6 linked regions of the Homo sapiens genome follow. The protein of the gene in region 1 purifies or fractionates together with the protein of each later gene. This does not show direct contact. Each region holds a gene or a part of one and is shown in the gene's direction. Other genes may lie near its edges. The genes, in order: ACP6, DHCR7, OCIAD1, LIMS1, SUCLA2 and FXN.

Region 1 (5,040 bases):
GGGGGAAATACCAGTCAGCAGAGCACTCAGAAAACACACAACATTTATTGATTAAGTTTGGCATCTTATATGGGGGCGGTTTGTGGCGCTCCCAAATAGTTAAAATAGTAACATCAAAGATCACAGAGTTCAGGATCAGCCTGGGAAACATGGCAAAACCCTGTCTCTCAAAAAAAAAAAATTAGCTGGGCATGATGGTATATGCCTGTAGTCCCAGCTGCTCGGGAGGCTGAGGTGAGAGGATGAGCCAAGGTAATGCCACTGCACTCCAGGAGGCAGACGTTTCAGTGAGCCAAGATCATGCCACTGTACTCCAGCCTGGGCAACAGAGCCAGACCCCATTTCAAAAAGAAAAACAAATCATAAATCATAGATCACCTTGACAGATTTAATAGTAATGAAAAAGTTTGGAATATTATGAGAATTACCAGATTTTACACAGAGACATGAATGAGCACATGCTGTTGGAAAAATGGCACTGATAGACTTGCTCAATGCAGAGTTCTCCAAACCTTCAATTTGTGAAAAATGCAATCTCTGTAAAGAGCAATAAAATGATGTATGCCTATGTTACTAAAAGGTTAACTTTACATATTTTCATCACGTAAAAATGAAAGTATGTGAGCTGATGGATTTTGTTTACATTAGTTAATCATATATCAAATGTAAATATATATGAAAACATCACATTGTACTCCATAAATATATACAATATACAATTATTTGTCAATTAAAAATAAAACAAAATATTTAAATGCAATAAAAATATTTTTTCCAAAAAGATTAATTAGTTGGCTATGGATAGATGGATTGTGCAGGTGAAAGGGAGGAGTTTGTCACAGGCACTAATAAGGTTTACATTCTACAATAAGATAATGGAAGGACCATTGGGAGGGACTTTTCTTCTAGGCAGTGATCAACAGGGCTTGGTGTGGGGATAGTGGATCCACAGGGAGCCAAAGGTTTGAGGTTTGGGGCCTAGGAGAACTGTGGTAACATTGAGAGGGACATAGTAGATTGGGAAGGGGAACTGGTCTATGGGATTAGACTTGTTTTTAAAATTGAAGTATTCACATCTGACTCAATGAGTGTCAGAGTTTTATGAACAGTTGGAGCTATGAGACCTGTGGCCACTAGTGATGTTTTGAAATCATTACAGCACAGTTGGGGCAGGAGCCAGATTGCAAGGAATAATGGAAGATGATGAAAAAGCAACATCTTCTGAGATGGCAGCTGCTTGTTTCACGAATTGCATGAAAGGAGGAAAAAAGTATATTAGTTACAAGGGACATTAAGTAGAATCCTTAAGCTGGGATAGGGCATATAAACCTCCAGATTAATTCCTTATAAATTCTTACATATGGTCACTGACATCTTATTTCTTTCATCCATCTATTCGTTCATTCACCACGTATCCGCATGCCAGGCATTCTGGTCACTTCTCCCCTTTACTTCAGTGTGGGCTAAGTGCCAGAGCAGCCCCTTAGCAGTCATTACTAGTGTAGCAATAACAGGACATAGGCTAAGGACACCTGGAATAATAAATCACCATCTTTTCTTCCCTTAATTTTAGCTAACATTTCTTTCCTTCCATCCCATAGGAAGGTTGCAGGCCTAGTGTCAGTGATTCCAGCCATGTGTTCTGAGTGCTTGAGATGTTAATGCTATACATTTCAAGAACCATTTTTAAACAATGTGGTGTGTTTTTTTTGTACTAACAGGTAGAGTGGAACCCCCAGCTATTAGAGGTCCCACCCCAAACTCAGTTTGATTACACAGTCACCAATCTAGCTGGTGGTCCGAAACCATATTCTCCTTACGACTCTCAATACCATGAGACCACCCTGAAGGTGAGCAATGCTTCCTTGCTCTGGGGAGCCCCACTGCAAAGGTTGGGTTGTTTTCTCTGGGCTGAGTTCAGCAGGCTGTCAGGTGTTTTCATTCTTCTTTCTCTTTCTTCCCTACTTTAGGGGGGCATGTTTGCTGGGCAGCTGACCAAGGTGGGCATGCAGCAAATGTTTGCCTTGGGAGAGAGACTGAGGAAGAACTATGTGGAAGACATTCCCTTTCTTTCACCAACCTTCAACCCACAGGAGGTCTTGTGAGTCACTTGAAAGGGGATGTTGCACTTAATTTAAGGTCTTGAACATGAGGATACCTGTCCTGACTCCCCAAGATGGTTCCCACTGTCACCCAAGGTAGTTTGGGGGACAACTTGTCATGCTGCATACCCTTATGTCACAGGATCTGGTGAACAGGTCGTTCCTGGAGGTCGCATTCATTGCACTTCGAGTCTCTCAGGGGCTGACATCCCACAGAAAAGTGAAGCATTCTTCCTAGTTCCATAGCTCTCCTTATGTACTCTTGAAAGACCCCTGGAGCGTATGTGGAATAAAATAGAGTGTATATAATTAAATATTCCTTTTATGAGTGTCACTATTTTCTCATTTTTTTCAGTATTCGTTCCACTAACATTTTTCGGAATCTGGAGTCCACCCGTTGTTTGCTGGCTGGGCTTTTCCAGTGTCAGAAAGAAGGTTCGTATTTGGGGTCCCAGTCAGTCCCTGTCCCTGAGGGGTCTTGCTTCTCACTTCCGAAGCCCCTATCTCTTTCTTGGTGCCTGTTCCCTTGACTTTTTTTCTCCTGCATGTGTGACTTCCAGTGTGTACCTAGTCCAGTGGGTCTTTCCCTGTCTGGCCTTATGGTGCCCCTGCCAGCCTGACCTCCACAGCAGCAGCAGTGTAGCAGCTGCTCTGATCTGCCTCTGGCTCCTGGCTTCTCCCCTCAAGCTTCTACACAAGCTGCACAAGGCAGTCCTAACCATGTTTTGTGAACAATCGAGGGGGCTTTTTATTTAGGTGAGACATTGCTGGAAAGGAAGGACACTGGGACCCAACACTGCTGCTACTGCCCTAATCTTGGTGATAATCCACAGCATGAACACTGTTCCGTCTAGCCTTTCCTAGTTGAGAAAGTCCATCGAGTTTGGGTTTTGATACATTCAGCCCCTGAATGGTTGCAGTCAGTGGTTCCCAACCTTTTCATCCCCAAGGACTGCATTAATTATTTTCCCTCATGGATCCCATGTGTTGAGAGCCTTTGGCCATCACATGAAGCTGCATTTTGTCATTTGTTATTGGCTCAAATTTACATTTAATTACTGGTCTGAGTTTCAGATCATCATGACCTTATTAAAAAGGTGCCAAAAAGCAAAGGTTCTTGTTACTTTGTTTAGCTTTTTGGCAGTATCTCAAATAGAAACAAAATTTCCATCACATTTTTTAAGAAATATGTAAAATAATGGAACCTTCAGGAAAGAGGAATCTGGTCTTGCCCTCAACTGGGTTGGATACTGCTGCTAGTTCTGGCTGTAGTTGGCTGCTGCACACAAACAGTACGTGTCTAGGTCACATAAAGCAGGATGGGCTGCCCCTTACTTCTTGGGAAGCCTTGAGTTTAGGAGTGATCCACAGCACCTGATCTTCTGAAAGCTCTCAACTGCTCAGCTTCTAAAAGGCAAAGATCTTCTCAGAAACATCAGAAGTGGTACTGAGAAGGAAAGATGTTTATTGGTGGCAACATTCTCTTTAGGCAGGTCCCAGACTGGGAATATCCCAGGTTTCCATCAGGGAAGGAAATCACTAGCCTCAGGTGCAGGTGTCTGGGTAGCAGCTCCCTGCGCTGGACCTACAGTTGTTGGGACTCCAGATTGGCTTCTTTTGTAGCTACTTCCATGCCTTTCCTATATGAAGGGACTTGAACAAAGAATCCCAGAAGGGGCCAGGCACAGTAGTTCACGCTTGTAATCCTAGCACTTTGGGAGGCTGAGGCGGGTGGATCATGAGATCAGGAGTTCAAGACCAGCCTGGCCAAGATGGTGAAACCCCATCTGTACTAAAAATACAAAAATTAGCCAGGCGTGGTGGTGGGCGCCTGTAATCCCAGCTATTCAGGAGGCTGAGGCAGGAGAATCGTTTGAACTCGGGAGGCGGAGGTTGCAGTGAGCCGAGATCGCACCACTGCACTCCAGCCTGGGTGACAGCGAGACTCCATCTCAAAAAACAAACAAACAAAAAAAGAATCCCAGAAGGTGGCACTGTTGATGGAAATGGTGCAACTTTGGGATATTGCTTTAGGAGTAAAATCCTAGAAAAATCCCAGTGGTTACGTATAGGCTACAGAGAATCAGGCTGTGGGGAAAGCTGGAGATTGTTGGTCTGCCCACTGGCCAAGTCATTTGCTCAATGTACATTTGTCTACTCAAGTGTGCCTTATTTATCATAAACTGGGTCCAAAATCCAGACACCAATATCAGACTCCAGATGGAAATATTAGAGGTTTATAATATTATTAGTGTTATAAGTTTAAGTCATAGTTATTCTAACACATAAAGGACTTAGTACAGTCATTCCACAGTATCCAAAAGGGATTGATTCCAGGACAACCCTCTCCCCGGGCAGATACCAAAATCTACAGATGCTCAAGTCCCTTTTATAAAATGGCATAGCTTTGCATATAACCTATGCCCATCCTCCCATGTACTTCAAATCATCTGTAGATGACATAATACCCAATACAATGTAAATGCTGTGTATTACCCTGTACTATTTTCTAATTTATGTTATTTTTATTGTGTTATTTTGTATTGTTCTTTTTTACTCAAATATTGTTAATCCATGGTTGATTGAATCCATAGATGTAGAATCCAAGGACATGGAGGACCAATTGTATGCAGCAAACTTTGTTCTAAGAACTTCGCATATATTAACTTGTTTAATTCTTGTAGTAACCCTATAAGATAGGTGTCATTATCCCCTTTTACAGATAAGAGAACCAAGACACAGAGAGGCTCAGTGACTTGCCCAGGGACACAAAACTGGTAAATGGTGGAATTAGGATTCAAACTCTGGCAGTCTTGGTTCAGAATCCTACTTTTTCCTTTTATGCTCAACTGTTTATTTGAGGACATGTATATCTGGAGGCGGCATCGGATCATTTGGTTTTTCCTTTTCACAACAAATCTTGCAGAACCCCAGGATT
Region 2 (5,040 bases), on another chromosome or scaffold:
AGAACTCTTCGTCTTGTTTTGTGCATCATAGGAACTGCATAAACTAACTTGTGTAAATTGAATGAAGTGCGGGTACTGAAGTTCTCACACTGCATAAGGAAAATGTCTTTCATCGTTGAAATTTTTTAAATGTGTGTGAATTTTTATTAAAGTAATTCATGCACACATTTTTTTAAAAATCAGTGTTAAAAGGCTTCAGAAGAAATACTCTCTACCACATCCCACATCCGACAGTCTTGCTTGCCAGCAGCAAACACTTTTCATTCTTTCAGCTACTTTTGTGTTGTTGTTTGTACCTACTTGTTTCTAAGTAATTTCCTTTTAGTACCCCTAACTTTGCAAATTCCCTTCTGTGCATACAATAGTCAATAAATAGTCAGAGTATACATTGTTATGACAAAATTACCATTATTCACTGTTGAGCCAAGTAAGGTCCTATAATAATGGCTTGGTTTCTTTTTTTCCTTCCTTATATGACTTTTTATTTTTCCTGGAGTTAACAGTTGCCTTCCTTTTTTTTTTTTTTTTTTTTTCATTTGGTAAGGTTTCTATGCATCTCTCATTCATTTTTTTCTGGATGCTCTAACCGAGCTGTCACATATATCAATAATTTTCCTACACATTCAGATGCAACAAAATTCATCATTTTCATTTCCTCTCTTTCCTAGCCATTCATCTTGTACCAATGTGGACTGGTTTCTGGTTAGTCCTGCTGCATAGCTGTCCTCTTGGGACTTGCCCCTGCCCTTTTGTGGACATGGCTTCAGCAGCTCTCTTGGGTCTCCAGTTTCCTGGATCCTATGTTGTTGTCCTTGAGTAATAGTTCACATAGGAGTAGAATTCTAGGTTGCAAAAAGTTTTCCTCAAAATTTTGAAGTTTTTCATCATTGTCTTCTAGAATCCAGCTTGCTGTTGAGAAATCTAAGCCTACTGTGATTTTTACTCCTGTTTTTTCTCTAAAAGCTTTCAAGAGCATCTTTTAAAAAATCTCAGATATTTTAAAGCTTCACAGTTATGAACTTGTTCTGGAAGTGGGGATGTCACTGCTTCCCCCAAATTATAACCATGTAGAGCAGCTGTGGGTACCTAGAGACATTCTGTGTTCTCTTCCCCTTTTTTTTGAAGGGTGATTATTGATGGTCCTACATGGGCCACTGTTCTAGGCCCTGGTAGTAGAACAATGAAGAGGACACACAATTCCTGCCCTTGGGAAGCTTACATTCTAGTGAGGGGAGACAGACAATACACACACACAAATGAATACTTCTAGGCGATGGGGAGAGTTACTAAGAAAATAAAGTACCCAGTGGAGGGCCTTGGCAGGGAAGCTGGGGAGCAGCTGCTTCAGATTGGCTGAGAGGGAAGATCTCCCCAGGAGGGGACATTTTACATGAGCCCTGAACAAGGACACCTGCAAACGTGCTCTAAGCAGAGGAAGTCAGTGCCACAGACAATTTAAACTGTGTTCAAGGATGAGTGAAGACCCCTGTGTTCCTGGAGCCAAAGGAGAATAGGGGAGAGTGGTGTGTAGGAGGGAGGCAGGAGCCAGCTTGTGCTGTAAGAGGGGGGGCATTCTGCCATGTTTGGAGAATGAACTGAGACTAGCAAGAGCAGCCATAGCAAGGTCACGTGGGAGGTGATTGCAGGGTCCAAGGAAGAGAGTCTAAGACAAGATGATCTCTTCCCTGCCTGGAATCTGCTGTCAGGAACAAGGTACCGGGAAGATGTGCACAGGAGGCCAGCCCTGCCAGGCCCAGGAGCAGTGGTGGATGCAACAGGGAAAGGTGGTGTCTGTTATTTGAGGGATAATGTAAGCAAGGTTCTCTTTCTTGCAGGGCCCAATGGCTGCAAAATCGCAACCCAACATTCCCAAAGCCAAGAGTCTAGATGGCGTCACCAATGACAGAACCGCATCTCAAGGGCAGTGGGGCCGTGCCTGGTAAGGATCTTGCCTGTTCTCCCAGCTAGAAAGTAAAGTGTGGTCTCAGAGCTTTCCAGCCTTTGGAATTGTATGGACCCAAAGGAATGAAGGACCTTTTTAAAAAAGATTTTTTTTTTTTTGTCAAGACTAATGAAAGGTAAACAGTTTTCCACTTTATAAAGTAAGGAATTATAAAAAGAAACTAGAAATCATGGTCAGTCAACAACTTAGAAAAAAAGATAAAGGCTTAAAGGGCAGCTGGGGCCTTCCCACCATCTGGGGGTATGACCTATTGTCACAGCTCCCATTTCGCCATAGAACCATGGGGACTTCGTGCAGGGTGAGTATCCTCTCCGACCTGGAACTGGGGAAACCACTGGCCTTGGTGGTTGTGAAAGACCTACCTCCGCTCATATTCTGAGCTCTGGGCCTTCCATGGGGGCCACAGATAGTGCCACCAGTTAATCAACTACAGTAGAGCAGGCATGTTGAGTGGCTTCCCTGGCCGCAAGGAGGGCCCGTGCTAGGAGCTAATGCCTTCTGTCATGGGGTACTGGTGGGTTTGAGCAACAGTTCTCCCACACAGAGCCTCTTAGGGTCCTGGTGGGGCCCAGGGCAGATGGGCCCCAGTGTGACTGCCTGCATCCGTCCTCGCAGGGAGGTGGACTGGTTTTCACTGGCGAGCGTCATCTTCCTACTGCTGTTCGCCCCCTTCATCGTCTACTACTTCATCATGGCTTGTGACCAGTACAGCTGCGCCCTGACTGGCCCTGTGGTGGACATCGTCACCGGACATGCTCGGCTCTCGGACATCTGGGCCAAGACTCCACCTATAACGAGGAAAGCCGCCCAGCTCTATACCTTGTGGGTCACCTTCCAGGTCAGCAGCCCCTGCCCTGGGGTTGGGACACAGCAGGTGGGGAGCGTGCCCTCCTGCTGGGGTAGTCCTTCCATTTGTCTGGGACATGGATCCTGGCTCAGGTTGACATCTGGGTTCCCGGGACCCAGCAGGGCATTCCCTGGACTCTGACATGTTCAGATTCATCCTCAGCTGTAAGGCAGGAGGCACCTGTCACATCAGCGTTTGATACACCTTCACGGCATGCCTGCATGCAGTTGCTGGGCACGCCCAGCTCTGCAGGGACAAGCTGAGGATAGGAGCAAAACCCCGTGGGAGGGCAGTGCTGTCCTGAGGAAGCCCCATTGTCAGCAGGAGTCACGCCTTGCACCAGGTCTGGAAAGGAGCATCTCAGTCCCCAAAGGGACTCTCTCAGTCATGAGATGCCACTCAGAGAAGCGAGGGCCATGTTTCCCCACAGGCAGTCGAGGCAGGTCCAGGACGTCCTCAGCTCCATGGTGTCCCCACTGGCCTCCCAGTCCAGAGGGAGTTCCAGGAAGGGGTTGTTGTAAACCTGGTGCACACATGGGTGGTGCTGATTGCCTGAACCCAGGAAAAGGTTTCCAGGGAAACGGTGCTAGAAAGAGACAGGCCTGGGTTTTCCTTCCTGGGCGGGAGGAAGGCTCAGATCATGATTAGCTGTTTCTCCCCAGGGTCCAAGCTTCTGGGCTCCAGAATACTTCTCAGTTCAGATCTCTTGGTCCCTTTGAGTGAAAAATGACAGGGGCAGTGTGAATCACAAATAGCCACAAAGCAGGAACCCCCACCTGTCCATCAGTAGATGAATGGACCCACAGAACAGAACACTGTGCCCACTGTGGGACACTATTTGGCAGCGGAAGGGAATGAAGCTCTGATGCCAGTAGGCGGATGACCCTTGAAGACACTGCTGAGCGAGAGAAGCCAGTCACAGAGGCTGCATACTGTGTGGTTCCCTTTATATGCAATACCCAGTACAGGCAAATCCACAGAGGCAGAAAGCTCAGTGGCAGCCAGGGGCGGCAGGGACAGGGAATTCAGAGTGACCGGAGATTGGAACAACATTTTCTTCTGTGGTGATGAAAAGTTCTGGAATTAGCAGTGATAGGTGTACAACCAACCATGTAAATGCGCTAAATGCCGCTGAATTGTGCACTTTAAAAGGGTGAATTTTAGCCGGGTGTGGTGGTGCACACCTGTAATCCCAGCTACTTGGGAGGCTGAGGTGGAAGGATCACTTGAGCTCAGGAGGACAACGCTGCGGTGAGCTATGATTGCACCACTACACTCCAGCCTGGGTGGTAGAACAAGACCTCATCTCAAAGATAGATTTATATATATATATAAAAAGTTGAATTTTATGGGATTCTCCATTTTAAAAAGGTGACTGGGAGGGACCTGTGCGCTCTCCTGAGGGGCGAATGGAGCCCTGGGGGAGAACGCCTTGGCACCTTCCCTGGTTGATGAGTTTATTGTCTCAGAACCCCCTTCAAAACCCACAGCCCAGCAGTTTGAGCTTCCAGGAGCCATAAGTGCTTCAGGAAGAAAAAGACTATGATTGTGATTCTCATGTTCCTGCTATGCGTCCCCCTTTGCAGGTGCCCTCCAGGCGGGGGGTGATCAGGCTGCTTGTGTGTTTCAGGTGCTTCTGTACACGTCTCTCCCTGACTTCTGCCATAAGTTTCTACCCGGCTACGTAGGAGGCATCCAGGAGGGGGCCGTGACTCCTGCAGGTAGCCTCCTCCCTTCCACCCTCCCCAGGCTCCCGTTCTCATCCCTTTCTCTCAGGGGCCAGTCCTCCCCAGCGCTGCTTTGTCCCTAAGACTTGTCACAGGATAGAAATCCATTTTGCTTGGATTTTTCACAGCACCAGGCCTCAAAACCATTGAGGGCAGCTGGGGCCATCCCACACCCAGGTTAGAAATCACTTTCCTGGGTAAGGAGGGAATGGATGGCCCAGCTCCTTCCCAGCCCCATAGCAGGGGATGCACTCGGCCCATGAAGCTTCCTGCAGAGACCACCATGCAGAGACCACCATTCCTCGGGGCTGTCCGTGGGAGACCTTGTCTGTTCATTCCTTGCCATCATTGAGAACCCACGAGGAGCCTGGCTTTGTGCCTCTCACGTGGGTGCAGACTGGAACCGCATCCCAACTCTGCCCCCAGAAGCTCCCTGTTTTGAGGGGTGGATGGGCTGAGGTGCTCCCCAACAATTACAGAGGGGGCCAGGCATACCACAGGGG
Region 3 (5,040 bases), on another chromosome or scaffold:
AGAGACTTGCAGGTATTTCAAGCTAGAAAGAACCTGAATAAGAATTAGGTGATGATGTCCATTTTAAATTTATGATGACTATGCATCTAAAACAGTTATTCTCAACTGGGAGCAGAATAACTGGAACGAGTTGAGAATAATTGTTATAGATGCATAGTCATCATAAAGTAAGGGCTTCTATAAAATTTTCATGGCTCATTAGAATGGGAATAATTTCTTTCTTTTTTTTTGAGACGGAGTCTCGCTCTATCCCCCAGGCTGGAGTACGGTGGTGCAATCTTGGCTCACTGCAAGCTCCGCCTCCTGGGTTCATACCATTCTCCTGCCTCAGCCTCCCGAGTAGCTGGGATTACAGGCGCCTGCCACCATACCTGGCTATTTTTTTTTGTATTTTTACTAGAGATGGGGTTTCACCGTGTTAACCAGGATGGTCTCCATCTCCTGACCTTGTGATCCACCTGCCTCGGCCTCCCAAAGTGCTGGGATTACAGACGTAAGCCATCGTTTTTTTTTTTTTGTTTTTTTTTCTTTTTTCGGTGTTCTTTTTTTTGTGACTGGGTTTCACTCTTGTTGCCCAGGCTGGAATGCAATGGCACAGTCTTGGCTCACTGCAACCCCTGCCTCCTGGGTTCAAGCAATTCTCCTGCCTCAGCTTCCCAAGTAGCTGGGCTTATAGGCGCCTGCCACCATGCTCAGCTAATTTTTGTATTTTTGGTAGAGAAGGAGTTTCACCATGTTGGCCAGGCTGGTCTCGAGCTCCTGACCTTGTGATCTGCCCACCTCGGCCTCACAAAGTTCTGGGATTACAAGCATGAGCCACTGTGCCTGGCCAGAATGGGAAGAATTTCTTAGAGAACTTGGCTGTATACTCCAGCAACAGTTCTTTTTTTTTTTTTTTTTTTTAAATCTTTGAAGATTATATAGAGTAGATAGGATAAAATGATCTATTTTTAAGTCTTGATGACACAGGATTAAGAAAAAGGCAAGTGTGATAGAGGGGATTTGGGATTATTGTAGTGTTGGGCTAACGGTTAAATAGATGCTAAGGTGTCCAGATTTATTTCTGGCTGATAAATGTATGCTGCTGCAGGTGTTTAACAATCTAAATAGCTGTGACAGGTTTATGCCAAAAGTACATTAAAGGGTAGTGAACAATGTCAGGATGCCCGTGTATACCAGACTCTTAATAGTGGGACATGTGGTATATGAACAGTACAAAGCTAAGTGATTTCTGTGCATTAAAACAGATAAATCACAGGTTGAAAAGACAAAAAGCGGCTGGGCTTGGTGGCTCACACCTGTAATCCCAGCACTTTGGGAGGCTGAGGCAGGCAGATCACCTGAGGTCAGGAGTTCGAGACCAGCCTGACCTATATGGTGAAACCCCGTCTCTACTAAGAATACAAAAATTAGCTGAGCATGGTGGCAGGTGCCTGTAATTCCAGCTACTCGAGAGGCTGAGACAGGAGAATCGCTTGAACCCGGGAGGCAGAGGTTGCAGCAAGCCAAGATCGTGCCACTGCACTCCAGCCTGGGCGACAGAGCGAGACTCCATCTCAAAAAAAAAAAAAAAGACAAAAAGCATGTGATAAGGACAGGCTGAAAGACAGCTTGTTAATTTTATACCATATCTACATTACTGAGAAATTACAGCAGCCAAAAAATTACTGTATTAATAGGTAGCATTTCACTCTCAAAACAGATAACCAAGGTGTTGTTGCATATTATAGCATCAAACATTGAAATGTAGAAGCTTGGTTGTAACCAGGTGATAGGAAGTTCAACGTATAATTATCAGAAGGATGATAATCATACATAGGAAATTTTGTACTTTAACATTTGTACTTTCGAATTAGATAGTCTATGCTGTATGTGACATTTATGTAAACAAATAATGGCATCTGTTACTTTGGAGAGTATCACCTTGGATTAGAAAAAGGTGATAAAAGCATTTACGAATTTATAAAAAAGCACTTACTAAGGTAATTTTTTATACATTTTTTAGGTCTGTTAAAATACTTATCCTCTTCTAAAATTAGACTTGTTGATCTAGGGACCATTCTCTTTCCTTAAGATAACTATGTTTCTATACTGACCTACATTCCATTAATCTGAAATATAACTATGAAGGCATCTTATTTCTAGGTGCTTAAAATCGTGACCCTATGCACTGACCTAAAATCACTATGTCTGTGCCCAAACACACAGGTAGTGAAGACCCTGTGCATATAGGGTCAGTTTATTGCATATTCATGTTAAAATAGTTCTCAAACTCCAGAATTACTAAAAAGATGTATCAGTTCATATTTGTATCAGCTGGAGTCTATGAATAATATTTCATATATGTGTACTACTAGTTTTCAAATGATACAGTATAAGAGTGATAAGAGTATGGGCCAGGCATGGTGGCTCACACCTGTAATCCCAGCATTTTGAGAGGCCGAGGTGGGTGGATCACTTGAGGTCAAGAGTTCAAGACCAGCCTGGCTAACATGGTGAAACCCTGTCTCTACTAAAAATACAAAAATTAGCCAGGTGTGGTGGCACATGCCTGTAGTCCCAGCTTCTTGGGAGGCTGAGGCAGGAGAATGGCTTGAACTCGGGAGGCAGAGGTTGCATTGAGTCAGGATTGTGACATTGCACTCCAGCCTGGGTGACAAAGCGAGACTTCATCTCAAAAAAAAAAAAAAAAGAGTATGGACTCTGAGGCCTGATTGGCTGGATTCAAATCCCAGCTCCACACACAGTAGCTGTGAGATTTTGGACAAGTTCCTGAGGTCTGTGCTATACTTTTCTTATCTATAAAATGGGGATAACTGCCTAGCTCATGAAATTATTATAGGGATTAATGCAATTTAATTAAGTGTTGGCTATCTTTATTAAATAGCTATTAGTGTTATTATGATTAATGAAATAAAAATTTTTATTGACTACAGTTAGGAATATAGAGTAGCTTTTTGTTACTGTGAGGGGAGAAGAGTTCAAATAATTGTAGGGATTCTTGTATATATTGAATATAGTTTGGGACTGTGGTAATAATGTGCACTAGGTTTTGGTCAGCAGTATTACTGATTTGCCTATAGAGACAGATTATTTAACAAAATAGATATTACATACTGTAGTGGAAAAGGCCACTGACTAGGGAGTCAGGAGACTTGGGTTCTGATCTCAGCATTACCACAAACTAACCAGCTGTGTTGCTTTGAGCAAATGACTTGTCTTTTCTGGATATTAGTGTACTCAGATTGGAATGAGGACTAGATAATCTCTGAAGCCTCTTTCAGTCTTACCATTGTCTTTTTCTGTGACATAAAGTAGAATACCTGAGTTGGAATGAGACCTTAGGTCTAATCCATTATTCCTTTATAGCATGAGAAGAAGCTATGCAAAGACATTGTGGTGAATGGCAGAACTAGTACTAGAATCTCCTCGAACAGACTATTACTCTGCATTAAATGGGGAAAGCATTATCCATTGTAGAAATGGCCAGCTAACTCATTGCCTTTTATTCTTATATGATTCTTCAGTGCTTCATGTTGCAATCCTTGAGTCAAGCTGGAGAAAAATGATTGCAAATTGTACTGGTGCTGTAATTAAAAGGGATTTGTCCTTTGCAAAACCTTAAATGATAAATGATAATGCATGAAGGCATTCTAACTAGCCAACATTAAAGAAACCATATTTCCAGCAAAGGTAAAATCTGTTAGTAAGTAGGATAGCATGAATTCAGACCTTAGCGTTTGTGCAATTTGTGTGTGATGGCAAAGTTAATGCCCTATTCCAAAGTGATGGATTTTAATCATGAAATCTGTAATAATTCAAATGTCTTAATTACTTTGGTTCTTAAATTGTCCATATATGGTTTAGACCAGAGTTGAACAAACTAGCCCATGGACCAAATCTGTTTTTGTATGCATGAGCTAAGAATTGTTTTTACATTTTTAAATGGTTAAGAGGCTGGGTGCAGTGGCTCACGCCTGTAATCCCAGCACTTTGGGAGGCTGAGGTGGGCTGATTACTTGAACCAAGGAGATCGAGACCAGCCTGGGCAACTTGGCGAAACCTCATCTCTACAAAAAAAAAAAAAAAAAAGAAAAAAGACAAAAAATTAGCCAGGCATGGCGGTGCATGCCTGTAGTCCCAACCACTTGGGAGGCTGAAGCAGGAGGATCATCTGAGCCGGCAGGTTGAGGCTGCAGTGAGATGAGATTGTACCACTGCATTCCAGCCTTGGTGATAGAGTGAGACTTTGTCTAAAAACATAAAATAAGATAAAATGGTTAAGAAATCAAAGGAAAAGAATATTTCATTACGTGTGAAATTACATGAAATTCATATGTTTGCATCTAAAAATAAAGTTTTGTTGGAACACAGCTACGTTCATGTGTTTTTGGATTGTCTTTCGGTGCTTTTGCTTTAAAACGGCAATTGAGTAACTGGGACAGAGATTGGCCCACAAAACCCAAAATATTTACCATCTGGCTCTTCATAGAACGTGTTTGCCAACCTCAGGTCTGGAACAGCACTGTCCAGTGTGGCAGCCAGTAGTCACATGTAGCAATTTAACTTTAAAATAACTTGCAGTGAAAGGATATAAAGCAAAATCATAAAAGGAAAGGGAGCATGGGGTGAAGTCCGGCGGAAACCAGGTCCCAAGAGTTCTCTTCCCAGGGAGTGTAAATTTCTCCAACAGCTAGTCATAACAATGTGTGAAGTTGTATCTACCCGGGGAACTCATTAGAGACTCAGTGCCCACAGTTTTTATTGGGGGCTGGTCACTTATTCACCCTCTGCCTAACAGGTACCAAAATTCCAGACTCCTAGAATGAAAGCAGATGTTTGGCATGAACTGTATTTGTACAAACAGTTTGGGCACAGTGAGCCAATTACGCATATCAATGGGGGGAACTGTTTACCAGTCAAGTACCAAGACCAAATTGATCACAGGGTTGGTCACTCAAAGACCAACTTCCATTATCATAAAAAATTCTGTTAGACAGTGCTGGTGTAAAGAACAGTGATTCATAGCTGTTTTTAAGT
Region 4 (5,040 bases), on another chromosome or scaffold:
CCACCATGCCTGGATAATTTTTGTATTTTTTTGGTAGAAACAGGGTTTCGCCATGTTGTCCAGGCTAGTCTGGGGGTCCCAAACTCCTGGGTTCCAGCAGTCCACCCACCTCAGCCTCCCAAAGTGCTGGAATTTTAGAGCCACTGTGCTCAGCCTGTCTAAGTTTTATGTGAATGTAACTTTTCCTTTTCTGGGATAAATGTCCAAGAGTGTGCAATTGGCAGGTTGTACAGAAATCGTATGTTTAGTTTTTTGAGAAACTGACAGTTTTTTTCCAGCATGACTGTACCATTTCACTTAAAAAGTGAAATTGACATTATTTTCCTGTGAGTACATAAAGGTAAAGAATTCAGGGACAGTACCACGGCCCTCTTTAGTGCTAAGCGGCCAGCAGTTGTACCGACTGTTGTTTTTGCACTATCTGTGTGTCAACACAGTCCACAATGCTACAGTGACTTCTTAGGAATATCTTAGTATGATGAAAATAGTTTTGATCTCTCGGATCCCTTAGAAAGGTCTTGGAGACCCTCAGGAGTTCAAGGCCATACTTTAAGAACCACTGTTAAAGACATAATCCTAAATGATGAAGGATATGCAGGTATTGGGGATATTTAAAAAGGAACAAATACAAGGTTTCTCTTAAAATTGCTCTTGAATGCTTGTGGTAGTGTGTGCCTTGTAGTTTTGGCTAGTTTTAGTAGGATGTAATAACTAAGACTTGGACCACCATGGAAGAAGCAACTTTCTGCCTTTCAGGATTTTCCCTGATAAGAAAATGGCCAGTGCCATTATGAAGAGGGACAATGCCATGGGCCTAAGTGTATTCACACTTTTCAGTGCTCTGTGCCTGTTTGTATGGTGAGAAAATCGAACTGTTGATTTTTAAGAAAGCTAAGGAAAGTTTGGTGGTACAAAAGATCATTTCAGTTCTGGTGGTTCCGGTTTTTGCAGGCTTAGAGAAAACTGTCCATCAGGATTGTGCTGTCTTGATTTTATTTGATCATTCCCACCCTTTTCCCTTTGCTGTAGCCCCTTGACCTGTCTCCTGGGCAGTTCTTTCCTTTGCTAAATGTGAGTACAACAAGTAGGCTTTCCTTTCCTCCTAGAGAGGGGGACCTTGGAGCCCCTCCACTGGGTCAGAGAAACTTCCATAGCTGCAGCAGATCAGTAACAGGAGAGCCGAGCTTTACTCTGAAAGCCTCTATTTTCAATAATGTTGTGTTTGCTCTTTGGATAATCATTTAAATAAATAAACCTCAGTATAGGTCATGTTCTTACCTAGGTTTGCACTTAAATAGAAGGAAAAACATCTCAAACCATTTTGTTAGTTTTATAGTTCTCGTAACTACACTTTAAGCTGTGGTTTTCCACCCACAGGGATGTCATCTACATTATATGCTGGACTGTTGCCACATTGTCTTCCAAAAACTTTAATTTTAAGACACTTGAGAAGCAGGAGCTGCACTACCTGTTGCCATATACTGTGCATTCTTCAGCAACAGAGGTTTCCTTTTCACTCTTTCTGATATAATCTCATCTCTTTTATTTGATCATATCACACATTTCCACCCTGGAGCTTACTGCAGGAATGAGTAAGGGAGTCATTTTCCTGCATCTTTTTTCACGTTGGAGCACGTTTTGGAGCTTGATGAGTCTTCAGTGACATTTAACAGTGGGGCGGGACAGCTGCAGATAAAGCAAGTGCTGAAGAGTGCATTCTGTGAGAGGTAGGAAGAAAGGTGAAGGCAGTAGTTCAGCTGCTGGGAGTATGTGCTTGGCAGTGGGAGGCACGGGACTCAGCATCAGCACACCAGGAATCCAGGGCTTTCAGGATGTCTGAGTAGCAGGCAAGGTAAAGCAAGATAACAGACAACATGCATTTACAAGTAATGTTTACACATACTTTCCCTTTCTACAAAAATGGAATCATAGTCATACTATTCTGCAATTGCTTTTTTTAGTATTAAAAAAGTTACGGGAAAACATGCAAAACAAAATTTACTATTTTAACCATTTTTGAGTGTACAGTTCTGTGGCATTATGTACATTGACGTTGCTGTGCAACCATCACTACCCTTCCTTCCAAGAACTTTTTCATCTTCCCAAACTGAAACTCTGTGACCAGTAAATACCAACTCCCCATTTCTTGCAATTGCTTTTTTACTTCAACAAGCTGTCTTAGAGCGGTGTATCTGGGTTTACCTTATGTTTTTTAACCTTAGTTTTAATGGCTGCATAGTATTTCACAGTGTACATGTGATATGATTTGTACATCCAGTCCTTGACTAGTGGTTATTTGGGTTCTATTTTTTAATTATCACAAACACTTTGAACATCTCTGCCAGAGTGTTTTTTGTTTTGTTTTGTTTTTGAGACAAGGTCTCACTCTGTCACCCAGGCTGGAGTAAAGTGGTGCAATCATGGCTCACTGCAGCCTCAACCTCCTGGGGTCAGGTGATCCTTTCACCTTAGACTTCTGAGTAGCTGGGACAACAGGTACATGCCACTATGCCCGGCTAATATTTTGTATTTTTTGTAGTGACAGGGTTTCCCCATCTTGCCCAGCCTAGTGTTGAATTCCTGGCCTCAAGCGATCCGCCCTTCTCGGCCTCTCAAAGTTCTGGGATTACAGGCGCGAGCCACTGCACCCAGCTACCAGAGTTTTCATAGCTTTCTGAGTGTAGAGTTAGTATGTGCATGAGTGTTTGGGTCCATGTTCTAGTCCTAGTTCTGTCCCTTCATGGCTCTTTGACTTTGGCCCTGTCAGCGTCTTTAAGCCTCAGATTCTTAATTTATAAAATAATCCCACCTGTCTCAGAGGTTGTTGTGATAACTAAATATGAAGGCAAATGCAAATATTTCTGAAAGGATACCGATGAAATTTTTAGTGATTGTTGCTTCTGGAGAGGGAGTCTAGGCACCTGAGAATCCAGGATGAGAGGGACATTTTTTGTTGTATAGCTTTTTGTACTGTTTTGATTTTTAAAATCGTGTATGTTTTCATTTTTAAACCATTTAACACCATGCCAGGAACATAGTAGATGCTCAATGAAGTCATCATTTCCCATCATCCTGGTTCTTTTCCTCCGGACTTATACTGCTGCTAATGGCACCTAACATGGTTGCTTTTGTTTCTTCCTGTCCTTCCCTCCCTATAGCCACCTTCTTGCTGAGTTCTTACCTTCGAATTTTCTCTTGAATCCATCGTTTTCTTTTTTCACTCCTTTCTTACTGATTTCCTTTTCACCCTGGTTCTGAAAATCTTTCAAATGAACATAAGATGATAGTATTAAGACTGGGAAAGACTTGAGAGAATGCAGAGCCAGTGTCCTGTGGACTGTAAACTTATTCCAACTGGCTTGAAAAAAAAAATCTATGCACATACTAAGTGTTTGAAGTGGAACAAATGATGTTTTGTGAATGTTTCTAATTTTCATTTAACAGGTGATAAAGTACAGATTCCTTTTTTTTTTTTTTTTTTTTTTTGAGACGGAGTCTTGCTCTGTTGCCCAGGCTGGAGTGCAGTGGCATGATCTCGGCTCACTGCAGGCTCCGCCTCCCGGGTTCAAGTCATTCTCCTGCCTCAGCTTCCCAAGTAGCTAGGACTACAGGCGCCTGCCACAACACCTGGCTAATTTTTTGTATTTTTAGTAAAGACGGAGTTTCACCGTGTTAGCCAGGATGGTCTCTACCTCCTGACCTTGTGATCTGCCCGCCTCGGCCTCCCAAAGTGCTGGGATTACAGACTTGAGCCACCGCGCCTGGCTGATAAAGTACAGATTCTTTTAAAGGGTTTGTGGAATTCGTGGTAGTATTTATATAGTGCATGCTTTATCTGTTAACGTGCTAAAAAGACAATCATGGTGACATGAAGATCTAAGAAAATTTATTTAACATTTAAAAAGTGGGTTTATATGTGAAAAAGTTGGAACCTACTGAACTCATGCACTTTAGTGGGTCCCCTGCATTAGCCCTTTATTTAAATACACTGCTTCTTTATTTTACAGGACAGGATTTGCCTAGAAGGTAAAATAGTTTATTCAAGGCCGAAAGTCAGTTAACAGCAGGGTTAGGAATACAGCCCAAGATGTGGTTGTATTGTGGGGTCTCCTCTGCTATATTACGTTGGTTTGCTCTGTTACTTTATTCACATTGCATTGTTACAGTTTGTTGTGTGTATATATTTTATCTTTTTGTCTACAGTATAGAGTAAATACCTTGAGGACCAAGACCTATAGCTGAGCCCATTAACATAGTACATTTGGAAATGTCTGAATGAATTATGGATATTGGCCCAGAATTGTTCTATTACAGGTGTCCTGGATGTCAGTCTCTTTCAAGTGATTCCTTTTGAAGAACACTTCAGAAGTGTTGTTGAAGACCTGGTATTCCTAGCCACATGTGCTGGTGCTTGCAACTTTTTCCTCCCCAGAGAGATCCCTTCCTATTGACGGGCTTCCTTACCAATGCATCAGCTGAGTGACAAATGTTACCAACTACTTAAACAGATATGTTTATTTCTCATTGGTAAATGTAGCTGTTGTTTTGTTTTTGTTTGCTTACTTTTAAAGCTGGGCACATTGCTGTCCATTTTAAAATTTGCCTTGTTAATACAGTGAGGAAGGGAGGGAGAATGGACATTGGGTAGGCAGTTGCAGCTTTTGCCACAGCTAGCTGTTTCTCCTTCTCAGTGCAGTAGATTCAACAGGATTTGTTTTTCTGTGCAGGTACAGTGCAGGTGCACCTGACTGATCTGTCATCCATGTTGGTTTCAGATTTTTCTAAAGAACTACTTTGGTCACATGTTTTCAAAATATTGAGAAGCTGCTTATTGCCTGTCAAGTAGGTCCAAACTCCAGCGCCTGGAATTTAAGGCTGTTTGTGATCTGGCCCAACCCATCTTCATAGCCTTGTCACACACTGTTTCCTTAGCCTTTGTCTCTCTAACCCACTGCCTTTTTCTGAAAATGATGATTTCCTGCCTCAGTGCTGTTCATGCCCTTCTCTGGGCCTGGAAAATCATCATCTTTTGTGTTTTCT
Region 5 (5,040 bases), on another chromosome or scaffold:
CCCTTAGTACAGATATGACAGTTTTATAATAAGAATACCAACAGTCTGATTACTGAAAGCAATTATATCTGCATTTCTTTCTGTCCTTTAGGGTATGTCCCACAACTTAGTGGATTTTAAAATTCATGTGAAATAATTCTCTGTGTGTTTTGTCTCAGCTTTGTATAGTTTCATTGTTTTTAAAGGGATTGCTTTTTTTAAAAAAAAAAAAACACAACCTTTTGTTTTTTATTTTGTATTTACATGATTCCAAAGTGGAAAGTATAGAACAAGGTATTATCAGGGAATCTAGCTTTTATATATTTCCCTCTTTACTTCTTCCCCAACAGGCAACCTTTTTACCTTTTTTTTTTGTTTGTTTTTTAAGAAAGTTTTGGTTTATCTTTCCACTTCTTAAAAACATAAGCTAATTGTATGTATATAACTATATGTATGTGTGCAGTAGTCCCCCCTTATCTGCAGGGAATGTGTTGCAAGACCCCTAGTGGGTGCCTGAATCACAGATAGTTCCAAACCTGTATATACTGTGCTTCTTCCTGTACATATATTCCTTTGATAAAGTTTATGTATTAGACATAGTAACAGATTAACAACAACTAATAATAAAGTAGAACAATTATAACAATATACCGTGATAAATGTGAATGTGGTCTCTCAAAATATCTTATTGTTCTATACTCACCTTTGTGGTGATAATGAGATGATAAAATGCTTACTTGGTGAGATGAACTGAGGTGAATGATGAAGGCATTGTGACATAGTGTTAGGCTACTACTGACCTAATGATGTAACAGAAGGAGAATCATCTGCTTTGGTTCATCCTGGATCATTGAGCCATGATGTTGATTGTTGGATGTCAAGAGTAGATAATGTTGATGACTAATGGAAGAGTAGTTTATACAGCGTGGATACGCTGGGCAAAGAGATGGTTCACATTCCACTTGGAGCAGGATGGTGCAAGATTTCATCACACTTCTCAGAACAACACACAGTTTAAAACTTAATGACTTTTTTATTTCTGGAATTTCTCATTTAAAATTTTTGGACCACAGTTGACTGCAGGTAACTGAAACTGTAGAAAGTGAAATTGGATAAGGGGGGGACTTTGTGTGTGTGTGTGTGTGTGTGTGTGTGTGTGTGTGTGTGTGTCTCCCTTTTCCCACTTTAGATTAATGGTAATCTATACTTTGTTTCTTTTACTTAACAATAATGTGTATCAGAGAACACTTCATAGTAGATACAGAGAGATGAGAATTTTTTGTCTTCCCTTCCATTATGTTTATAGACATTTCATTGAACACTCGAACACTCTTTGGGCTCTATAGCTTAATCAATAGTAGATTCTTGATTTTTTTTTTTTTTTTTTTTTTGAGACTGAGTCTTGCTCTGTCACCTAGGCTGGAGTACAGTGGCGTGATCTCAGCTCACTGTAACCTTTGCCTCCTGGGTTTAAGCAATTCTTGTGTCTCAGCCTTCTGAGTAGCTGAGACTACAGGTGTGTGCCACCACGCCCAGCTAATTTTTTTTTTTTTTTTTTTTTTTTAAGACAGAGTTTTGGTCTTGTTGCCCAGGCTGGAGTGCAGTGGTGTGATCTCGGCTCACTGCAACCTCCATCTCCCAGGTTCAAGCAATCCTCCTGCCTCAGCCTCCCAAGCAGCTGGGATTACAGGCATGTACCACCATGCCTGGCTAATTATGTATTTTTAGTAGAGATGCGGTTTCACCATGTTGGTCAGGCTGGTCTTGAACCCCTGACTTTGTGATCCACCTGCCTCGGCCTCCCAAAGTGCTGGGATTCAGGTGTGAGCCACTGCGCCCAGCCTTGTATTTTTAGTAGAGATAGGGTTTTGCCATGTTGACCAGGCTGGTCTCGAACTCCAGACCTCATATGATCCTCCCACCTCGGCCTTCCAAAGTGCTGGGATTACAAGCATGAGCCCCCAGGCTTGGCCAGACTCTTGAATTTACCGAGTTAATGTGATGTCATTTCACAAAAATAATAAAAGTCTTATGTCCTTCTTTGGGAAAGTACTTACTAGTAAACAAAATTTAACTCTAGCTTGGAGACAGAAGAATTTAAACTTAAACCTGAATTAAAAATAAAGAATTTGAGCAAGGGAATAGTAGGAGAAAGTATTTCAGAAAGCCTATTTTGACTTTGAGATGTGGGATATATTGAAGGGAAAAGGGGAGAGATAGTAGGAGTCCATCTAGTGCAATACTTAGATATGAGAAAAGGTGAAGGTAATAAATAGGTTATAACTTGTCTCTGAAAGTGCACTTTTTTGGAATGAAAACTTAAATTAAGAAAAGCTTGGAGGACATGAAAAGAAGGAGAAGAACCAGTAGGACCTTGATCAAATAGATCATGAGAGGTAAAAGTGAACAGTTGATTTAAATTATGACTACAGTGTTTTTATTGACTGGGAGATTATAGAAGTCATAACAATAATAATATTGAATGAGATGATGATGATATTAGCAGTTACTACTGTTTATTGAGTGTTTACTGTGCATGCAATGCTAAGCTGTTTTCTTCAAGGATTATCTCATTTAATATGAATTTGGTGATAAAATTTCCATTTTTATAGATGAAGAAACAGGCTAGATAAGTTAACTTATTCAAGGTTGTATGTCATAAGCATCAGAGGGGGGATTTGCAGCCAAAGATATCTAACTTCAAAGCCTTTTCTTAACTAATTTACTGAGGAAGAGAGAAGCTGAGTTTGTTTTTTTGGTCTTAGACATGTCTAAATTTGTATGATGTTTTGTATGGTAACTGGTGGATATTTTTAGACAGATTGTAGAGAGAATTGGAACTCAGGTTAGCAATTGTTAACTTACTGACAAAAAGTAAAATACTAACTAGTAGACCCAAATTTCTATCCCAACATTTTAAGTTAAGATTGTATACTTATTTCAAAACAAATTTTTACTTAGATGTGCTTTGAGTTGTGGAGTATCCAACAAAGACACTCACTGTTTCTGTCTTTAAGATAAAATTTAGAATAATATATATATATATACACACACACACACACACACACATACATACACACACATTTTATACACACATATATAATCTTATGTAATACATATGTGTAATCCTAGCAGGTGGTATAACATCTTAATCAGAAAGTATTTAATTGAAGTTTGGACTATGAGGAGTGTCAGACTTGATTATCCTTTGAGAATGTCATTTGCTTATAAGAACGTAATGTGATTTATAGCAATGTCAGAATAGTCCAGATGTTTTAAATGGAAAAAATTGAGTGTACATTAATTTTGCACTGACCTGTAGTTCTGAATTTACCTTTTTGTGAAAATTCTTCGTTCTTTTCTTTTAGGTTGTAAAGCTCTCTGAAATAGTGACCTTAGCGAAGCAAGCACATGTGGATGTGAAATTTCAGTTGCCAATATGATCTGAAAACCCAGTGGATGGCTGAAGGTGTTAAATGTGCTATAATCATTAAGAATACTGTGTTCTGTGTTATTGTTCTTTTTCTTTTTAGTGTGTGGAGATTGTAATTGCCATCTAGGCACACAAACATTTAAAAGGATTTGGACTGCATTTAATTGTACCATTCAGAATGGACTGTTTGTACGAAGCATGTATAATGCAGTTATCTTCTTTCTTTTGTCGCAGCCAGTCTTTTTTGCTTCTCCTACAAAACGTAACTTGCAATTTGCCAGTTTATTATTGTTGGATACAAAGTTCTTCATTGATAAGAGTCCTATAAATAAGATAAATACGAAGATAAAGCTTTATTCTTTAGTGTTAAAATACAGTATATCTAATAACTAGCCTCATTAGTAGAGCAGTATATTAAAACAATGTTTTATGTAAAAAGTGTTTATCTTCAGCACCAAATACATGATAAATGTATCAATCACTATTTATAAACAGAGCTTTCAAACACTCCTCAGAATATTCTTCTAAGTATTTTGATGAAGTAACTTTGTAATTATTTGAACATTGTTTTAATCATTAGGAAACACTGATTAACTGCAAGTCTTCATGATTCTGTCATATTAAGAAACACCTGTAGGTTTGCTTCAAATAAAGGCATATATACCAAGGACTTACAGACAAAATTAAGAATGTCAATTTAAGTTAATAAAAATCTCCCAATATGATTTGGGTTCATGGCTTTTGTTTGCTTGTTTTGAGGTAAACACAGTAGAAGTTGATTTGTTCGTTATTGCAGTATAGAGGTCTAAGCACCAATTCTTAGATCATATACTTGCCATGACAGTGATTTGTTTTTTTTTTTGAGTCAGGGTCTCACTCTGTCACCCAAGCTGGAGTGCAGTGGTATGATCATGCTCACTGCAACCTCTGCCTCCTGGGCTCAAGCAGTCCTCCCACCTGAGCCTCCTAAGTAGCAGGGACTACAGGCACACACCACAAAAAAACATATGTGTTTTTTTTTGTTTTTGATTTTTGTTTTTTTTTTGGTAGGGACAGGGTATCACTATGTTGCTTAGGCTGGTCTCTTACTCCTGAGCTCAAGCAATCCTCCTGGCTTTGCCTCCCAAAATGTTGAGATTACATGTATGAACTACTGCACCCAGCCAACCATACATATTATACAGCTACTTATAGATAGATAGTTCACTGGAAGTCTGCTATTTATGTGTATGCCATCTAGTATATCCTCTAAAGGAAACAGAGGGGAGAATTGAATCCAAGATGCCTAACTTCAAAGCCTTTTCTTAACTATTTTACTGAGGAAGAGAGAAGCTGAGTTTATTTTTTGGTCTTGGACATGTCTAAATTTGTATGATGTTTTTGTTTTTGTTTTTGTTTTGAGATGGAGTCTCGCTCTGTTGCCCAGGCTGGAGTGCTGTTGCACGATCTCAGCTCACTGCAAGCTCCGCCTCTGGGGTTCACACCATTCTCCTGCCTCAGCCTCCCGAGTAGCTGGGACTACAGGCGCCTGCCACCACACCCAGCTCATTTTTTGTATTTTTAGTAGAGGCAGGGTTTCACCGAGTTAGCCAGGATGGTCTTGATCTCCTGATCTCGTGATCTGCCCG
Region 6 (4,452 bases), on another chromosome or scaffold:
GGAAAAAAAGCCGTTTTCATGAGCTGAGTGATGTAGCGTAACAAACAAAATCATGGAGCTGAGGAGGTGCCTTGTAAACATGAAGGGGCAGATAAAGGAAGGAGATACTCATGTTGATAAAGAGAGCCCTGGTCCTAGACATAGTTCAGCCACAAAGTAGTTGTCCCTTTGTGGACAAGTTTCCCAAATTCCCTGGACCTCTGCTTCCCCATCTGTTAAATGAGAGAATAGAGTATGGTTGATTCCCAGCATTCAGTGGTCCTGTCAAGCAACCTAACAGGCTAGTTCTAATTCCCTATTGGGTAGATGAGGGGATGACAAAGAACAGTTTTTAAGCTATATAGGAAACATTGTTATTGGTGTTGCCCTATCGTGATTTCAGTTGAATTCATGTGAAAATAATAGCCATCCTTGGCCTGGCGCGGTGGCTCACACCTGTAATCCCAGCACTTTTGGAGGCCAAGGTGGGTGGATCACCTGAGGTCAGGAGTTCAAGACCAGCCTGGCCAACATGATGAAACCCCGTCTCTACTAAAAATACAAAAAATTAGCCGGGCATGATGGCAGGTGCCTGTAATCCCAGCTACTTGGGAGGCTGAAGCGGAAGAATCGCTTGAACCCAGAGGTGGAGGTTGCAGTGAGCCGAGATCGTGCCATTGCACTGTAACCTGGGTGACTGAGCAAAACTCTGTCTCAAAATAATAATAACAATATAATAATAATAATAGCCATCCTTTATTGTACCCTTACTGGGTTAATCGTATTATACCACATTACCTCATTTTAATTTTTACTGACCTGCACTTTATACAAAGCAACAAGCCTCCAGGACATTAAAATTCATGCAAAGTTATGCTCATGTTATATTATTTTCTTACTTAAAGAAGGATTTATTAGTGGCTGGGCATGGTGGCGTGCACCTGTAATCCCAGGTACTCAGGAGGCTGAGACGGGAGAATTGCTTGACCCCAGGCGGAGGAGGTTACAGTGAGTCGAGATCGTACCTGAGCGACAGAGCGAGACTCCGTCTCAAAAAAAAAAAAAAGGAGGGTTTATTAATGAGAAGTTTGTATTAATATGTAGCAAAGGCTTTTCCAATGGGTGAATAAAAACACATTCCATTAAGTCAAGCTGGGAGCAGTGGCATATACCTATAGTCCCAGCTGCACAGGAGGCTGAGACAGGAGGATTGCTTGAAGCCAGGAATTGGAGATCAGCCTGGGCAACACAGCAAGATCCTATCTCTTAAAAAAAGAAAAAAAAACCTATTAATAATAAAACAGTATAAACAAAAGCTAAATAGGTAAAATATTTTTTCTGAAATAAAATTATTTTTTGAGTCTGATGGAAATGTTTAAGTGCAGTAGGCCAGTGCCAGTGAGAAAATAAATAACATCATACATGTTTGTATGTGTTTGCATCTTGCTTCTACTGAAAGTTTCAGTGCACCCCACTTACTTAGAACTCGGTGACATGATGTACTCCTTTATCTGGGACACAGCACAAAAGAGGTATGCAGTGGGGCTGCTCTGACATGAAAGTGGAAGTTAAGGAATCTGGGCTCTTATGGGGTCCTTGTGGGCCAGCCCTTCAGGCCTATTTTACTTTCATTTTACATATAGCTCTAATTGGTTTGATTATCTCGTTCCCAAGGCAGTGGGAGATCCCCATTTAAGGAAAGAAAAGGGGCCTGGCACAGTGGCTCATGCCTGTAATCCCAGCACTTTGGGAGGCTGAGGCAAGTGTATCACCTGAGGTCAGGAGTTCAAGACCAGCCTGGCCAACATGGCAAAATCCCGTCTCTACTAAAAATATTAAAAAATTGGCTGGGCGTGGTGGTTCGTGCCTATAATTTCAGCTACTCAGGAGGCTGAGGCAGGAGAATCGCTGTAACCTGGGGGGTGGAGGTTGCAGTGAGACGAGATCATGCCACTTCACTCCAGCCTGGCCAACAGAGCCATACTCCGTCTCAAATAAATAAATAAATAAATAAAGGGACTTCAAACACATGAACAGCAGCCAGGGGAAGAATCAAAATCATATTCTGTCAAGCAAACTGGAAAAGTACCACTGTGTGTACCAATAGCCTCCCCACCACAGACCCTGGGAGCATCGCCTCATTTATGGTGTGGTCCAGTCATCCATGTGAAGGATGAGTTTCCAGGAAAAGGTTATTAAATATTCACTGTAACATACTGGAGGAGGTGAGGAATTGCATAATACAATCTTAGAAAACTTTTTTTTCCCCTTTCTATTTTTTGAGACAGGATCTCACTTTGGCACTCAGGCTGGAGGACAGTGGTACAATCAAAGCTCATGGCAGCCTCGACCTCCCTGGGCTTGGGCAATCCTCCCACAGGTGTGCACCTCCATAGCTGGCTAATTTGTGTATTTTTTGTAGAGATGGGGTTTCACCATGTTGCCCAGGCTGGTCTCTAACACTTAGGCTCAAGTGATCCACCTGCCTCGTCCTCCCAAGATGCTGGGATTACAGGTGTGTGCCACAGGTGTTCATCAGAAAGCTTTTTCTATTATTTTTACCTTCTTGAGTGGGTAGAACCTCAGCCACATAGAAAATAAAATGTTCTGGCATGACTTATTTAGCTCTCTGGAATTACAAAGAAGGAATGAGGTGTGTAAAAGAGAACCTGGGTTTTTGAATCACAAATTTAGAATTTAATCGAAACTCTGCCTCTTACTTGTTTGTAGACACTGACAGTGGCCTCATGTTTTTTTTTTTTTTAATCTATAAAATGGAGATATCTAACATGTTGAGCCTGGGCCCACAGGCAAAGCACAATCCTGATGTGAGAAGTACTCAGTTCATGACAACTGTTGTTCTCACATGCATAGCATAATTTCATATTCACATTGGAGGACTTCTCCCAAAATATGGATGACGTTCCCTACTCAACCTTGAACTTAATCAAAATACTCAGTTTACTTAACTTCGTATTAGATTCTGATTCCCTGGAACCATTTATCGTGTGCCTTACCATGCTTATATTTTACTTGATCTTTTGCATACCTTCTAAAACTATTTTAGCCAATTTAAAATTTGACAGTTTGCATTAAATTATAGGTTTACAATATGCTTTATCCAGCTATACCTGCCCCAAATTCTGACAGATGCTTTTGCCACCTCTAAAGGAAGACCCATGTTCATAGTGATGGAGTTTGTGTGGACTAACCATGCAAGGTTGCCAAGGAAAAATCGCTTTACGCTTCCAAGGTACACACTAAGATGAAAGTAATTTTAGTCCGTGTCCAGTTGGATTCTTGGCACATAGTTATCTTCTGCTAGAACAAACTAAAACAGCTACATGCCAGCAAGGGAGAAAGGGGAAGGAGGGGCAAAGTTTTGAAATTTCATGTAAATTTATGCTGTTCAAAACGACGAGTTCATGACTTTGTGTATAGAGTAAGAAATGCCTTTTCTTTTTTGAGACAGAGTCTTGCTCTGTCACCCAGGCTGGAGTGCAGTGGCACGATCTGGGCTCACTACAACCTCCGCCTCCTGGGTTCAAGCAATTCTCTGCCTCAGCCTCCCGAGTAGCTGGGATTACAGGTGCCTGCCACCACACCCGGCTAATTTTTGTATTTTTAGTAGAGACGGGGTTTCACCATCATGGCCAGGCTGGTCTTGAACTCCTGACCTAGTAATCCACCTGCCTCCGCCTCCCAAAGTGCTGGGATTACAGGCGTGAGCCACTGCACCCAGCCAGAAATGCCTTCTAATCTTTGGTTTATCTTAATTAGCCAGGACACTTGGAGTGCATCCCGAAGTACCTGATCAGTGGCCCCTTTGGAATGTGTAAAACTCAGCTCACTTATATCCCTGCATCCGCTACAGAGACAGAATCCAAGCTCATATGTTCCATCTTCTCTGGCTGTATAGTTTAAGGAATGGAAGGCACCAGAACAGATTTATTGAAATGTTTATTAGCTGAAGATTTATTTAGACAGTTGAGGAAAACATCAGCACCCAGCAGTAAAATTGGCTCTCAAAGATTTTCTTCTCCTGTGGAAAGTCAGACCTCTGAGGCCCCATCCAGGTAGAAGTACTAGTGCAAGAAGGGCCTCTGCTGTCCACTTGTGTTTCTGTGATCTGTGGGAACATTGTTAACGCCACATCTTGACCTCAAATTGTTTAGCTCCTGGCCAGACACGGTGGCTCACACCTGTAATCCCAGCACTTTGAGAGGCTGAGGCAGGTGGATCACCTGAGGTTAGGAGTTCGAGGCCAGCCTGGTCAACATGGTAAAACCCCGCCTCTACTAAAAATACAAAAATTAGCTGGCCGTAGTGGCGCACGCCTGTTATCCCAGCTACTCGGGAGGCTGAGGCAGGAGAATTGCTTGAACCTGGGTGGTGGAGGTTGCAGTGAGCCGAGATTACACCACTGCACTCCAGCCTGGGTGACAAGAGGGAAACTCCATTAAAAAAATGTAA

The links.
Region 2: the proteins of ACP6 (region 1) and DHCR7 purify together in Homo sapiens (affinity purification with mass spectrometry, with the first as the bait; one large-scale study listed by BioGRID). This does not show direct contact.
Region 3: the proteins of ACP6 (region 1) and OCIAD1 purify together in Homo sapiens (co-immunoprecipitation; one large-scale study listed by IntAct). This does not show direct contact.
Region 4: the proteins of ACP6 (region 1) and LIMS1 purify together in Homo sapiens (affinity purification with mass spectrometry, with the first as the bait; one large-scale study listed by BioGRID). This does not show direct contact.
Region 5: the proteins of ACP6 (region 1) and SUCLA2 fractionate together in Homo sapiens (co-fractionation; one large-scale study listed by BioGRID). This does not show direct contact.
Region 6: the proteins of ACP6 (region 1) and FXN purify together in Homo sapiens (co-immunoprecipitation; one large-scale study listed by IntAct). This does not show direct contact.

Annotation. Positions count from the first base shown.
Region 1 is NC_000001.11:147,656,457-147,661,496, reverse strand, and holds part of ACP6 (lysophosphatidic acid phosphatase type 6), read left to right. Parts: intron 1-1,721; coding exon 1,722-1,850; intron 1,851-1,970; coding exon 1,971-2,101; intron 2,102-2,457; coding exon 2,458-2,537; intron 2,538-4,824; exon of another isoform or gene 4,825-4,879; intron 4,880-5,040. UniProt on the Homo sapiens protein: Hydrolyzes lysophosphatidic acid (LPA) containing a medium length fatty acid chain to the corresponding monoacylglycerol.
Region 2 is NC_000011.10:71,441,754-71,446,793, reverse strand, and holds part of DHCR7 (7-dehydrocholesterol reductase), read left to right. Parts: intron 1-1,835; 5' UTR 1,836-1,841; coding exon 1,842-1,939; intron 1,940-2,507; exon of another isoform or gene 2,508-2,578; coding exon 2,579-2,801; coding exon of another isoform or gene 2,802-2,837; intron 2,838-4,440; coding exon 4,441-4,531; intron 4,532-5,040. UniProt on the Homo sapiens protein: Oxidoreductase that catalyzes the last step of the cholesterol synthesis pathway, which transforms cholesta-5,7-dien-3beta-ol (7-dehydrocholesterol,7-DHC) into cholesterol by reducing the C7-C8 double bond of its sterol core.
Region 3 is NC_000004.12:48,836,760-48,841,799, forward strand, and holds part of OCIAD1 (OCIA domain-containing protein 1), read left to right. Parts: intron 1-5,040. UniProt on the Homo sapiens protein: Maintains stem cell potency. Increases STAT3 phosphorylation and controls ERK phosphorylation. May act as a scaffold, increasing STAT3 recruitment onto endosomes. Involved in integrin-mediated cancer cell adhesion and colony formation in ovarian cancer.
Region 4 is NC_000002.12:108,536,731-108,541,770, forward strand, and holds part of LIMS1 (LIM and senescent cell antigen-like-containing domain protein 1), read left to right. Parts: intron 1-5,040. UniProt on the Homo sapiens protein: Within the IPP (ILK-PINCH-PARVIN) complex, binds to F-actin, promoting F-actin bundling, a process required to generate force for actin cytoskeleton reorganization and subsequent dynamic cell adhesion events such as cell spreading and migration.
Region 5 is NC_000013.11:47,941,753-47,946,792, reverse strand, and holds the end of SUCLA2 (succinate--CoA ligase [ADP-forming] subunit beta, mitochondrial precursor), read left to right. Parts: intron 1-3,347; coding exon 3,348-3,422; 3' UTR 3,423-4,137; downstream 4,138-5,040. UniProt on the Homo sapiens protein: ATP-specific succinyl-CoA synthetase functions in the citric acid cycle (TCA), coupling the hydrolysis of succinyl-CoA to the synthesis of ATP and thus represents the only step of substrate-level phosphorylation in the TCA.
Region 6 is NC_000009.12:69,073,489-69,077,940, forward strand, and holds part of FXN (frataxin, mitochondrial isoform 1 preproprotein), read left to right. Parts: 3' UTR 1-4,452.